Linked DNA regions of Homo sapiens. The protein of the gene in region 1 interacts with the protein of each later gene in a pairwise test. Each region holds a gene or a part of one and is shown in the gene's direction. Other genes may lie near its edges.

Region 1 (7,035 bases):
TGCTTTGAGTGCTTCCTTCTCTAGGCTCCCACAGTGCCCTTTATGGACCGCTATTGGCAATTTTTAATTTTTATGAACACATGTCTCTAGAGTACTGTATATACTTGGAAGGATACCATGTCTTGTCTTTGTGCTAGAGTCCAGCGTAGTTCTGAATACGGGTTTAGTAAGTGTTTATTGGATGAATAAAAATGGGAGGATTCAAGACTGGATGATAAAAGACTGCTCTTGCAGCTCTACCTGCTTATTTGGGGAGATGGTACATACGTGCAGTTGAGCTCCAGACCTAGCATGACTAGCCTATACAGGGCTGTAAATCATTCAGCCAGCAAACACAGTGGATTTCCAATGGAGAACTTTTGCTCTTCTCCCCTGGCAGATTGAGTCATATGTCTGCCGGATGTGTTCTCGAGGGGATGAGGATGACAAGCTCCTGCTGTGTGATGGCTGTGATGACAACTACCACATCTTCTGCCTGCTGCCTCCTCTGCCTGAGATCCCCAAGGGTGTCTGGCGGTGCCCAAAGTGTGTCATGGCGGTAAGGCCTCCCCACTCCACATCTGCCTCATAGGGCTTCCTTGCCTTCCTTCATCTGGCCTTATTGAGGGCAGCCTCTTAGCTCAGCCATAGTCTTAGGTTTTGGGTCTCTGTGGTGGGATTAGGCTGGGCAGAGCTTTGGGAGAAAGGAGCAGGAGATTCAGCCTTTGCTTCTGTCCTCTAAGAGCTCCCAGACCACCTGGAGAGGTAAGCATCATAATTAGACTATATGTGGTGACATATAAACAGAGGCTAAATTGTGTGTTAGAAACTCTGAGATATAGAAGTTCAGAGGAGAGGAAAATAGCTAAGGGTAATAATCAGGGAAAATGTCAGAAATGAGACTTGAAGGATAGGAATATTAAGAAAAAAATGTTCTTTCAATTTCTGAGTTTTTGTTTTGTTTTTTTTTTTCTTTTTTAGAAAGTTTGAGGCCGGGCGCGGTGGCTCACGCCTGTAATCCTAGCACTTTGGGAGGCTGAGGTGGGCGGATCGTTTGAGCCCAGAAGTTTGAGACCAGCCTGGGCAACATGGCGAAACCCCGTCTCTACCAAAAAAGATACAAAAATTAGCCAGGCATGGTGGCGCACGCCTGTTGTCCCAGCTGCTCGGGAGGCTGAGGTGGGAGGATCGCTTGAGCCCAGGAGGCGGAGGTTGCAGTGTGCCAAAATCATGCCACTGCACTCCAGCCTGGGCAACAAAATGAGACCCTGTCTTCAAAAAAAAAAAAGACATTTTGGAAAATAGGCAAATTACTTGTGTTCCCACCACCCAGTGATAACCATTGTTAATAGTTTGATATATTTTTTTCTCATCTTTTTGCTGTTACTTATATGTAACTATCTTTAACAAGTTTGAGATCTTGTTATATATTTTCATTTGTTGCTTTATAACCATTTCTCTATATTACTAAGTTTAATTAAGGTCTGGAATTTTTTTAGATGGTGTATCATGGGTATAATATTTATTTAGTTGTTTTCCTCTTGTTATATTTAGATTGAGGCAGTGCTACAGGCTTTAACTAGAGAGGTGGTTGGCTGTTCAGGACTGGGAGGTGGAGGACTAGCAGGAACAGAGGTATAGCAGGAGAGCATGCCTACTATGGGTATAGGGGCAGTAAGGAGAGCAGCTGAAGCAGCAGTAAGGGCCAAGCAGCCAGGAAGTTGGGCAGGTACATTTCATGAACTTCCTACCTTCACCCAAATTCTCGGTACTTACCTTCTACATTTCCCTCTGGATTTCTGTAGAGCAGACATTCGCCTTATCTTAGGGACTCAACTGTGGTTGTAGAGACCGGGTGTGCACATGCATACATACACACAGACAGACATACACAGATGAGGAAAAATCAGGGCAGTGCATATTGGCCTTGGTAGTGGTGGAGATTCTAGTTGGGGAGGAGTTTGGATACCAACAGTATCAAGACTGTCGACTCTACTTGACTCTCTTCTCTAAGTGGTTATAAGTCAGTGGACCAGACGGACATTTATTTTTCAAACATAAGCATGGTGTGTGTCTGATTTTGGGGTACATATTGTTCTCATCTAAAATAATGAACATAGGTACAAAATGAGGTAGACCCACATCCTATCTTCTGAGACAGTCTCAAGAACAGGATTAGTGGAGGGTTTGATACTGTAAAAGCCAGTGTCTTCATTTTCCATCTTTCTTTTTTCTTTTTCTTTTCTTGCGACAGAATCTTGCTCTGTCACCCAGGCTGGAGTGCAGTGATGCCATCTCTGCTCACTGCAACCTCTGCCTCCCGGGTTCAAGCGATTCTCCTGCCTCAGCCTCCTGAGTAGCTGGGATTACAGGCGCCTGCCACCACACCTGGCTAGTTTTTGTAGTTCTAGTAGAGACAGGGTTTCACCATGGTGGCCAGGCTGGTCTCGAACTCCTGACCTCAGGTGATCCACCCCACCTCAGCCTCCCAAAGTGCTGGGTTTACAGGCATGAGCCACCATGCCCGGCCCTGTTTTCCATCTTTCAAGGTACTGGAATATTCAATGCCATTTTCCCAGCCTTACAGTTCTAGTCTGGGCATAAAAAACCTTCTCTAAGCACCCTGCATAGAACCACATTTTAGAGGCCAGGCGTGGTGGCTCACGCCTGTAATCCCAGCACTTGGGAGGCCAAGGCGGGCGGATCACAGGGTCAGGAGTTTGAGACCAGCCTGGCCAACATGGTGAAACCCCATCTCTACTAAAAATACAAAAATTAGCTGGGCGTGGTGGCGGGCACCTGTAATCCCAGCTACTCGGGAAGCTGAGGCAGGAGAATCGCTTGAACCTGGGAGGCGGAGGTTGCAGTGAGTTGAGATTGTGACCCTGCACTCCAGTCTGGGTGACAGAGCAAGACTCCGTCTCAAAAAAAAAAAAAAAAAGAATCACATTTTAGCTAGAGAGGAAAAATGGTGGCAGAAGAACACAGGATAGCATATTAAAGTCAGAGCCATTTAGATAAAGTCCTAAAGGAAGAAAAGAGCATGAGATGACTCCCTGGAAGTTGTGAGACTGGAATTGAGTTTTGAGGAACCAATGAAAGAAAGTGGAAAAGGACATTTCAGTAGGGAGGAACTGAGCAAAAGCATGATGGGGAATGAAAAGACTAAGCCGAAGTGGTAAGAGCAAAAGGTACAGCTGTAAAGTAAGGCCTGCCTCAGGGGCCTTGAGTGCAGACCTAGGGCTCTTCTCCCTCCCTACCCCTTATATTCCAGTTCCACTTGGGAGGATTCTTCACCTCTTTGCCTCTGTTTTGGTGACATGTTCTCCTTTGGGTTTCAGGAGTGTAAGCGGCCCCCAGAAGCCTTTGGCTTTGAGCAGGCTACCCGGGAATACACTCTGCAGAGCTTTGGCGAGATGGCCGACTCCTTTAAAGCTGACTACTTCAACATGCCCGTGCATGTAGGTGATGGAGGGCTGAGGTAGTGTTGGGCTAGGATCATAGGTATTGATGCCAGATGGTCTCAGCTCACCTGGATCAGTGGGTCCAGGGTGTGATGGGCCATAGTCATCTGCTACCTGTCTTCCCCCAGATGGTGCCCACAGAACTTGTGGAGAAGGAGTTCTGGAGGCTGGTAAATAGCATTGAGGAAGATGTGACTGTTGAGTATGGAGCTGACATCCATTCCAAAGAATTTGGCAGCGGTTTCCCTGTCAGTGACAGTAAACGGCACCTAACCCCCGAAGAGGAGGTGAGTGGATGATTCATGGTTACGTGTCAGCTGTGTGAGCTTAGGCAAATCATTTAGTATCTGAAAAACTCAGTATCTCTGTAAGATGAGGATAATTATGCCTGTCTTATGTAGCCATGAGATTTAGATGAGATGAAAGAAAACAGTCTGGTACCTGGCATGTACAAACATGAGATGGGTTCTTTCGCCTCTGTGAGCCCATTTCCTTATCTTTAAAATGGGGATAATATCTACTTTGCAAATTTGTTATAAAAATTAAATGAGAAGGTATATGAGATCCTGGCTCATCCATAAGTAGTGTTCAGGGAGTGGGGTTTGTATGCACAGGAGAAAATGAGGGCCTAGTTGTGCTTCCAAGAAAGGGTACATTTTGATCCAGAGCAGGATTTTTTTAACTTGCAGGTATTTTGGTAGGTGGATATATCGGTAAACTTCGTAGAAATTGAAGTGAATACAATTGAAATTTTGTGTGTATGCTTTTTGGTGGAGAGGTAGGGAGAAAACCTATATGTTTCTTAAGATGTTTCAAAAAAGTCTCTGACCTCAAAATTAAGGTTCCCTAGGCTAAAGAAAATGACTTAAGATCTCAGTTCCTTAGCATAACCCTCATGCCCTTTTTACAAATACCTGACCTGGCAGGAGTATGCTACCAGTGGTTGGAACCTAAATGTGATGCCGGTGTTGGAACAGTCTGTACTGTGCCACATCAATGCAGATATCTCTGGCATGAAGGTGCCCTGGCTCTACGTGGGCATGGTCTTCTCAGCCTTTTGCTGGCATATTGAGGATCACTGGAGTTACTCCATTAACTACCTCCACTGGTGAGTGGGACCCTGGGGAGCCAGGGAATCAAGTCAGTGTGGGCTCCCTGCATGACCAAGGTGTGATTTACTGTGTGTGTCCCTTTTCCACTTGTGCAGGGGTGAGCCGAAGACCTGGTATGGGGTGCCCTCACTTGCAGCAGAACATTTGGAAGAAGTGATGAAGAAGCTGACACCTGAACTATTTGATAGCCAGCCTGACCTCCTGCACCAACTTGTCACCCTCATGAATCCCAACACCCTCATGTCCCATGGTGTGCCAGTGAGTACCCAGGCAACAGGGACAAGCGGCAGGAGTGATTTAGTGATGTCCTTTGTGATGGTGGTGGTGGCGGTGGTTGTCATCTGTATTCTGCCCCTGGCCTTTCTTCATTGCTGTTCTTAATTGGGCTACGGGTTTGACTAGTCTAGTAGAGACCCAAAATAATAGTGATTAGATGCACCGTATGATGGTATGCCCTCTGGGCCATGTGTTTGACGGTAACAGCTAAGGGGTGGCTTATTATCACATCTACATTCCAGCCAGTGGAAGAGGGAAGTGGGGAAGTGCAGGGCTAGACAAATCTTTTAAAGGCACACATCATTTCCATTCACCTTCTGTTAGTAAAAACTTGGTCATATGACCACATCTAGCTGCAGGGAAAACTGGGAAATGTAATTCTTATTTTGGATGGTCAAGTACCACTTAAAACTGGAGGTCATGTTGTTATGACAGAAGACAAGAATGAATATCGAGGTACAACTAGCAGCCTCTGCCATACTTTGTATACTCTTACCCTTCTCAGAGCAGTGGATAGGTCTTTTTATTTAACAGGTCAAAAGTTGAACCCAGAGTTCTGGTCTATCCTCTGTGTACTTCTTTCTTACCCTTTAAAACATTTTGCTGGGTATACAACATGGCTTACCTGTGAGAGACTTTATATTCCTGGGAATTTCTAGCATTGATTAGCATCAGCCAGTTTTCTGGTGTGGATCTTAAAACAGCCTGATCACTAGTCCTGTAAGAACAGGAATTAGTAGATCCTCTATCTCTGCTTTAAGTATTATCCGGGGCTGCTACTCTTCCCTACACCCTTCCACGCTCTTTGGCCTTGGACACATTACCACTTACTCTAATGTATGAGATAGTCAATAAATACTGAATTAATGTCTCCTTCAGATATTCCTAGATATCTGTACAGTAGGGCTTTGGACTAGGTCAGTGGTTCTCACCTGCATTTCTTTTTGCCTTCTCCTTGTTTTGGTATACTATATGCCCCATGAGTAATATTTTTTTATTATAAAATTTAGTGATATTTAACCAAGGACTTGGGATATCTAGGGAATTGGACAGAAGGAGGTGTCCTATAACAGTTCAGGCAATCTTCCTCCACTCAGGGAGTTATCCTTTTCTCTCTCTACCTCACCCCATTTAAGGATGATGATCAAGGGCTTGAGTTCTGCTGCTTTACAAGTAGACATGGGGTCTGACTTTCCTTAGACTTCTCTCTTCCTGACCCATAGCACAGCATCAGTCCTTGTCTATAATGCCATGGAAAACTGTAAAAGAGGATTCTCTTGGCCAGGCACGGTGGCTCACGCCTGTAATCCCAGCACTTTGGGAGGCCAAGGCAGTCAGATCACTTGAGGTCAGGAGTTCAAAACCAGCTTGGCCGACACGGTGAAACCCCAGTCTCTACTAAAAATACAAAAATTAGCCAGGTATGGTGGCGCACGCCTGTAATCCCAGCTACTCAGGATCAGGAGGCAGGAGAATCGCTTGAACCCGGGAGGCAGAGGTTGCAGTGAGCCGAGATTGTACCACTGCACTCCAGCCTGGGCAACATAGTGAGACCCTGTCTCAAAAAAAAAAAAAAAAAAAAAAAAAAAAGAGCCGGGTGTGGTGGCTCATGCCTGTAATCCCAGCACTTTGGGAGGCTGAGGCGGCCGGATCACCTGAGGTCAGGAGTTCGAGACCAGCCTGGCCAACATGGTGAAACCTCGTCTCTAATAAAAATACAGAATTAGCCGGGCGTGGTGGCACGTGCCTGTAGTCCCAGCTACTGGGGAGGCTGAGGCGGGAGAATCACTTGAACCCAGGAGGCGGAGGTTGCAGTGAGCCGAGATCGTGCCATTGCATTCCAGCCTGGGCAACAGGTGGAGAGACTCCATTTCAAAAAAAAAAAAAAAAAAAAAAGGATTCTCTGAAGGATTTGGGTAGCTAAGAGGCATATATATATATATGTGTGTGTGTATATATATATATATATATATATATATGTATGTGTATATATATGTATATATACATATGCAGAAGGTCATGGAGCTGTTTAGTCCTTACCGCTTTTTAAAAAACTTTATCACAGAATCCAAAATACGTGCTTTTTGCTTACACCTCCACAGCATTTCTCCTGCTCGTGGCTCATCATCTTCTCTGGCCAGCTGCTACTTTACCACCCAGCCCTCTGTCTGCCCTGCCCTTCCTATAGGTAGTTCACAGCATCT
Region 2 (7,035 bases), on another chromosome or scaffold:
CTTAAAAATTTTCTTTGCCGGCTATGCACGGTTGTTCACACCTGTAATCCTAGCGCTTTGGGAAACCATGGTGAGCGGATCATCGGAGGTCAGAAGTTCAAGACCAGGCTGGCCAACATGGTGGTACCCCATCTCTGCTAAAATACAAAAATTAGCCTGGCATGATGGCGGGTGCCTGTAATCCCAGCTACTCCGGAGGCTGAGACAGGAGAATCACTTGAACCCGGGAGACGGTGGTTGCAGTGAGCCGAGATTGCGCCATTGCACTCCAGCCTGGGCAGCTGAGCGAGACTCAGTCTCAAAAAAAAAAAAAAAAAAAATTTCTTTGCCATTCTCTCTTGGTTTTTGTTTTGTTTTGTTTTTATTTTTAAGGGAATTAATTTAAAAACTTAAATTGAGAGGCTTGTATTTGTGTATTTTTCACTGCGGCTTTAACCTCCTAGGCTCAAACGATCCTCCCACCTCAGCCTCTGGAGTAGGTGGCACTGTAGGCTTGTGCTATAACATGTGGCTAATTTAAAAATTTTTTTGTACACAGGGTCTCACTAGGTTGCCCAGACTGGTCTCAACCTCCTTAGCTCAAGCAATCTTCCTCACCTCATCCTCCCAAAAGTGCTAGGATTACGGGTGTGAACCACTATGCCTGGCCATTCTTCTAAGAATATTTTTGATACGTATGTGTAAAGCTTGCAGAACTCTTTCCCCTTTTGTCTTGGCTTACACCTATAAATTCATTTCGGAGGCATAAAACAGACAATTGGTAGATTTATAAAGAAGAGAACCTGTTACTAGAATTGGGAAAAAGAATTTAAAATTGTTTGTACAGGGCAAAAGTTAATATTCAGGTAGGTACTAATTAGAAAATCTTGATGAATATATTTTAATATAAGCAAGACTTCATGGCAATAAAGTAAAAATTACGGGAGAAAAAGAACGGAGCAAATAAATCATGCCATCAAATTTTAAACAGAAAATTTCTACATCCTCCCTTTCCGTTCACCATTCCTTAGGTGGACCCTCGCACCTTGATGGATGCATGCTTGCTCTATAGATCTCCTTATTCATCAGAGTTATAAAATGGTGCTATTTTAATTATAGTTATTTTATTAGTGTGTAAATATGAAGAGAAGAGATAAATTCCACTTATCTATTTACTCATGATGTAGGAAAGACAGGATACGTAAGAGTCTTCCCCTTGATTGATCGATTGATTGAGATGGAGTCTCACCCTGTCGTCCAGGCTGGAGTGCAATGGCACGATTTCAGCTCACTGTAACCTCCGCCTCCTGGGTTCAAGTGATTCTCCTGCCTCAGCCTCCCGAGTAGCTGGGATTACAGGCATGCACCACCACGCCTGGCTAAGTTTTTGTATCTTTAGTAGAGATGGGGTTTCACCATATTGGCCAGACTGGTCTCCGGCTCCTGGTCTCCAACTCCTGACCTCTTGATTCGCCTGCCTCGGCTTCCCAAAGTGCTGGGATTACAGGCGTGAGCCACTGCGCCCAGCCTTTTTTATTTATTTATTTTTTTGAGATGGAGTCTTGCTCTGTTGCCCAGGCTGGAGTGCAGTAGTGCGATCTCGGCTCACTGCACCCTCTGCCTCCCGGGTTCAAGGGATTCTCCTGCCTCAGCCTCCCAAGTAGCTGGGACTGTAGGCACGCATCACCACGCCTAGCTAATTTTTTTGTATTTTTACAAAATGCCTCCCCAAATTTTATATTTTTACAAAAATGCCTCCCAAAGTTTTGGGACTACAGGCGTGACCCACCGCGCCCTGCTGAGTCTTCCCTTTTATTTATCCATACTCAAAGTTACCAATTGGTTCCAAAAGTGAACAATTATAGGTAACACATTTTGAGTTCTTGCTGTCTGCTCCATGTTAAGGACTTTACATAGATTAGATTATTTATAGCTCACAACACTTAGAGAGTATTTTATAGATGAAATTGAGGCCGGGCGCGGTGGCTCACGCCTGTAATCCCAGCACTTTGGGAGGCCGAGGAGGGTGGATCACCTGAGATCAGGAGTTCGAGACCAGCCTGATCAACATGGAGAAATGCCGTCTCTACTAAAAATACAAAATTAGCCAGGCTTAGTGGCACATGCCTGTAATCCCAGCTACTAGGGAAGGTGAGGCAGGAGAATCGCTTGAACCTGGGAGGCGGGGGTTGCAGTGAGCCGAGATCGCGCCATTGCACTCCAGACTGGGCAACAAGAGTGAAACTCCATCTCAAGAAAAAAAAAAAAGAAAGAAATTGAACTCTAGAGAGGTTTCAGGACTTTGCTCAAAGTCTCAGAGTGAGCAACTTGCAGAGCTCATGTTTTATCTCCCAGATGGTCTAGCTCTATCTAGAAGTTCTTAGGCCTTATGCTACCTATCTTTCTACATTCTATGTCCACGTATGTTAAAATGTTTGTCTCCATTTAAATCATTCACTGGAGAGAACCAGGTATAGAGTAATGTAGCATGTTGTAGAAACTTGCATATTTGTAAATCTGTTAGTAGACCAACATGGAGAAGAATTGTCCAGTCAGCTGAATATCTAATTTGACTACCTGGATAAGGTGATTATTTTATCACCAGGCATTTTCTAATCATGTAAAACTTAACATCTACATGGTTTTACCTAATGTCTGAGTTTTGCTTTATGAAAATTTTTAGTACAATTTGATATGAATTTGAGAATGTTTGAGATGAATTTTCATAAATGTCAATTTCCGTTTTTCTACTATGCATTCCATTGGACCAGTGGGGTATGGATACCATTTGGTAATATTTACTAGAGTGTGATCTAGATGGGTATGTATTCAGGTAGAATGTATTACTCTTATGCCTTTAATTTGGGGGTGGGGGTTCTGGTTTTTTATGTATCAGTGATTGTGACTTTGCTTATTTTACATACCATATCTATTTGTGTGCCACTTCTCATTACCTAGTTCCTTTATGTATTTTATAGAAAGGTGGGGGGAAAATCAAGAAAGTTTTCTGAATAATTACCTTGGCCTATATTTTTGCTTTAAAATAGCAATGCTAGCGCAGGAAGTTTGCTAAGTGAAAATTTACTCAGCTCTTGCCATGACGGACAGAAGGATTAAATTTCAAGAAAAAGCCTTTGCTCAGACTAAAGCAGAATTTCAAAACTTTTGCACCTAGGATCTGGGAGTATCGCCCAGAGTGAAAGATATTTTTCTCAAGATTTACCATAAGAAATTTAGGGTGGAGGGAGTATGGGAATTTTATTTTATTTTTATTTATTTTTGAGACGAAGTTTCGCTCTTGTCGCCCAGGCTGTAGTGCAGTGGTGCGATCTTGGCTCACTGTAATCTTGCCTTCTGGGTCCAAGCAATTCTCCTTCTTCAGCCTCCTGAGTAGCTGGGATTACAGGCATCTGCCACTACACCCGGCTAATTTTTTGTATTTTTAGTAGAAACAGGGTTTCACCATGTTGGCCAGGCTGGTCTTGAACTCCTGACCTCAGGTGATCCACTGCCTTCGCCTCCCAAAGTGCTGGGATTACAGGTGTGAGCCACCACACCTGGCTGGGAATTTTATTTATTGATGTATTTTTGAGACAGGGCCTTGCCCTGTTGCCCAGGTTGGAGTACAGTAACACATTCACAACTCCATGCTACTTCAGATTCCTGGGCTTAAGTGGTCCTCCCGCCTTTGCCTCCCAAGTAGCTGGGACTGCAGGTGCACTCCACCATGCCTGGCTAATTTTTTTTTTTTTTTCTTTTTGTGAGACAAAGTCTTACTGTCGCCCAGGCTGAAGTGAAGTGGTGGGATCTCAGCTGACTGCAACCTCCGCCTCCTGAGTTAAAGCAATTCTCGTGTCTCAGCCTCCCTAGTAGGTGGGATTACTGGCATGCAACACCACGCCCAGCTAAATTTTTTTATATTTTTAGTAGAGATGGGGTTTTACTATGTTGGCCAGGCTTGCCTTGAACTCCTGACCTCAGGTGATCCACCTGCCTTGGCCTCCCAAAGTGCTGGGATTTACAGGTGTGAGCTACCGCACCTGGCTGGGAATTTTATGTATTGATTTATTTTTGAGACAGGGCCTTGCTCTGTTGCCCAGGTTGGAGTTCAGTAGCACATTCACAACTCACTGCTACTTCAAATTCCTGGGCTTAAGCGGTCCTCCCGCCTTTGCCTCCCGAGTAGCTAGGACTACAGGTGCACTCCACTATGCCTGGCTAATTTTTTTTTTTTTTTTTTCTTTGAGACACAGTCTCGCTGTCACCTAGGCTGGAGTGAAGTAGTGCGATCTCAGCTCACTGCAACCTCTGCCTCCTGGGTTAAAGCAATTCTCGTGTCTCAGCCTCCTGAATAGGTGGGATTACTGGTGTGCAACACCACGCCCAGCTAATTTTTTTTGTATTTTTAGTAGAGATGGGGTTTCACCGTGTTGGCCAGGCTGGTTTCAAACTCCTGGCCTCAAGGTATCCGCCCACCTTGGCCTCCCAAAGTTAATTTTGTTTTGATTTATTTTGCTCAGGTTGTTCTCTAATTCCTGGGCTCAAGCAGTCCTTCTGCCATGGCCTCCCAGAGAGTTGAGGTTATAGTTGTGAGCCACTGCACCTGGCCAGAATTTTATTTTCTACTCCATTAGGCATTTAACTAAACACACAAAAAAATTTTTAAGTTGATAATATTCCTCCAAATTAACATCCAGAGCCCAATTGAACTTTGCCAATATGTGTATGTCTTAAAGAATCTCTGTTCTTTAGTAGTGCTTGAGGACTCTAACTTGAACTTTTTTGAAGCTTGTGGTTAACTGAGATTTATTCCTCTCTTTTGAGAATCAATGTCAAGGGATAGAGAAATGTTATACAAATAAATATGGTAAATGTAAGGTGCATGATACAGCATTTTAAATAGTCTTTGTTGTTACTTTACATATACAGTTCTTTATATTTTAATCTTGAATTTGTCTTAATCTATGTCTTCTCTCATACTTTTGATTTGCCTTCAGGTGAGAAGCCATTTAAATGTGATCAGTGCAGTTATGTGGCCTCTAATCAACATGAAGTAACCCGCCATGCAAGACAGGTTCACAATGGGCCTAAACCTCTTAATTGCCCACACTGTGATTACAAAACAGCAGATAGAAGCAACTTCAAAAAACATGTAGAGCTACATGTGAACCCACGGCAGTTCAATTGCCCTGTATGTGACTATGCAGCTTCCAAGAAGTGTAATCTACAGTATCACTTCAAATCTAAGCATCCTACTTGTCCTAATAAAACAATGGATGTCTCAAAAGTGAAACTAAAGAAAACCAAAAAACGAGAGGCTGACTTGCCTGATAATATTACCAATGAAAAAACAGAAATAGAACAAACAAAAATAAAAGGGGATGTGGCTGGAAAGAAAAATGAAAAGTCCGTCAAAGCAGAGAAAAGAGATGTCTCAAAAGAGAAAAAGCCTTCTAATAATGTGTCAGTGATCCAGGTGACTACCAGAACTCGAAAATCAGTAACAGAGGTGAAAGAGATGGATGTGCATACAGGAAGCAATTCAGAAAAATTCAGTAAAACTAAGAAAAGCAAAAGGAAGCTGGAAGTTGACAGCCATTCTTTACATGGTCCTGTGAATGATGAGGAATCTTCAACAAAAAAGAAAAAGAAGGTAGAAAGCAAATCCAAAAATAATAGTCAGGAAGTGCCAAAGGGTGACAGCAAAGTGGAGGAGAATAAAAAGCAAAATACTTGCATGAAAAAAAGTACAAAGAAGAAAACTCTGAAAAATAAATCAAGTAAGAAAAGCAGTAAGCCTCCTCAGAAGGAACCTGTTGAGAAGGGATCTGCTCAGATGGACCCTCCTCAGATGGGGCCTGCTCCCACAGAGGCGGTTCAGAAGGGGCCCGTTCAGGTGGAGCCGCCACCTCCCATGGAGCATGCTCAGATGGAGGGTGCCCAGATACGGCCTGCTCCTGACGAGCCTGTTCAGATGGAGGTGGTTCAGGAGGGGCCTGCTCAGAAGGAGCTGCTGCCTCCCGTGGAGCCTGCTCAGATGGTGGGTGCCCAAATTGTACTTGCTCACATGGAGCTGCCTCCTCCCATGGAGACTGCTCAGACGGAGGTTGCCCAAATGGGGCCTGCTCCCATGGAACCTGCTCAGATGGAGGTTGCCCAGGTAGAATCTGCTCCCATGCAGGTGGTCCAGAAGGAGCCTGTTCAGATGGAGCTGTCTCCTCCCATGGAGGTGGTCCAGAAGGAGCCTGTTCAGATAGAGCTGTCTCCTCCCATGGAGGTGGTCCAGAAGGAACCTGTTAAGATAGAGCTGTCTCCTCCCATAGAGGTGGTCCAGAAGGAGCCTGTTCAGATGGAGTTGTCTCCTCCCATGGGGGTGGTTCAGAAGGAGCCTGCTCAGAGGGAGCCACCTCCTCCCAGAGAGCCTCCCCTTCACATGGAGCCAATTTCCAAAAAGCCTCCTCTCCGAAAAGATAAAAAGGAAAAGTCTAACATGCAGAGTGAAAGGGCACGGAAGGAGCAAGTCCTTATTGAAGTTGGCTTAGTGCCTGTTAAAGATAGCTGGCTTCTAAAGGAAAGTGTAAGCACAGAGGATCTCTCACCACCATCACCACCACTGCCAAAGGAAAATTTAAGAGAAGAGGCATCAGGAGACCAAAAATTACTCAACACAGGTGAAGGAAATAAAGAAGCCCCTCTTCAGAAAGTAGGAGCAGAAGAGGCAGATGAGAGCCTACCTGGTCTTGCTGCTAATATCAACGAATCTACCCATATTTCATCCTCTGGACAAAACTTGAATACGCCAGAGGGTGAAACTTTAAATGGTAAACATCAGACTGACAGTATAGTTTGTGAAATGAAAATGGACACTGATCAGAACACAAGAGAGAATCTCACTGGTATAAATTCAACAGTTGAAGAACCAGTTTCACCAATGCTTCCCCCTTCAGCAGTAGAAGAACGTGAAGCAGTGTCCAAAACTGCACTGGCATCACCTCCTGCTACAATGGCAGCAAATGAGTCTCAGGAAATTGATGAAGATGAAGGCATCCACAGCCA

The links. The genes of interacting proteins can lie anywhere in the genome.
Region 2: the proteins of KDM5C (region 1) and REST interact in binary tests that used the Homo sapiens proteins (3 or more experiments, as listed by UniProt).

The regions. Positions count from the first base shown.
Region 1 is NC_000023.11:53,208,192-53,215,226, reverse strand, and holds part of KDM5C (lysine-specific demethylase 5C), read left to right. Parts: intron 1-379; coding exon 380-538; intron 539-3,320; coding exon 3,321-3,440; intron 3,441-3,571; coding exon 3,572-3,730; intron 3,731-4,369; coding exon 4,370-4,551; intron 4,552-4,650; coding exon 4,651-4,813; intron 4,814-7,035. UniProt on the Homo sapiens protein: Histone demethylase that specifically demethylates 'Lys-4' of histone H3, thereby playing a central role in histone code. Does not demethylate histone H3 'Lys-9', H3 'Lys-27', H3 'Lys-36', H3 'Lys-79' or H4 'Lys-20'.
Region 2 is NC_000004.12:56,924,865-56,931,899, forward strand, and holds part of REST (RE1-silencing transcription factor), read left to right. Parts: intron 1-4,976; coding exon 4,977-7,035. UniProt on the Homo sapiens protein: Transcriptional repressor which binds neuron-restrictive silencer element (NRSE) and represses neuronal gene transcription in non-neuronal cells.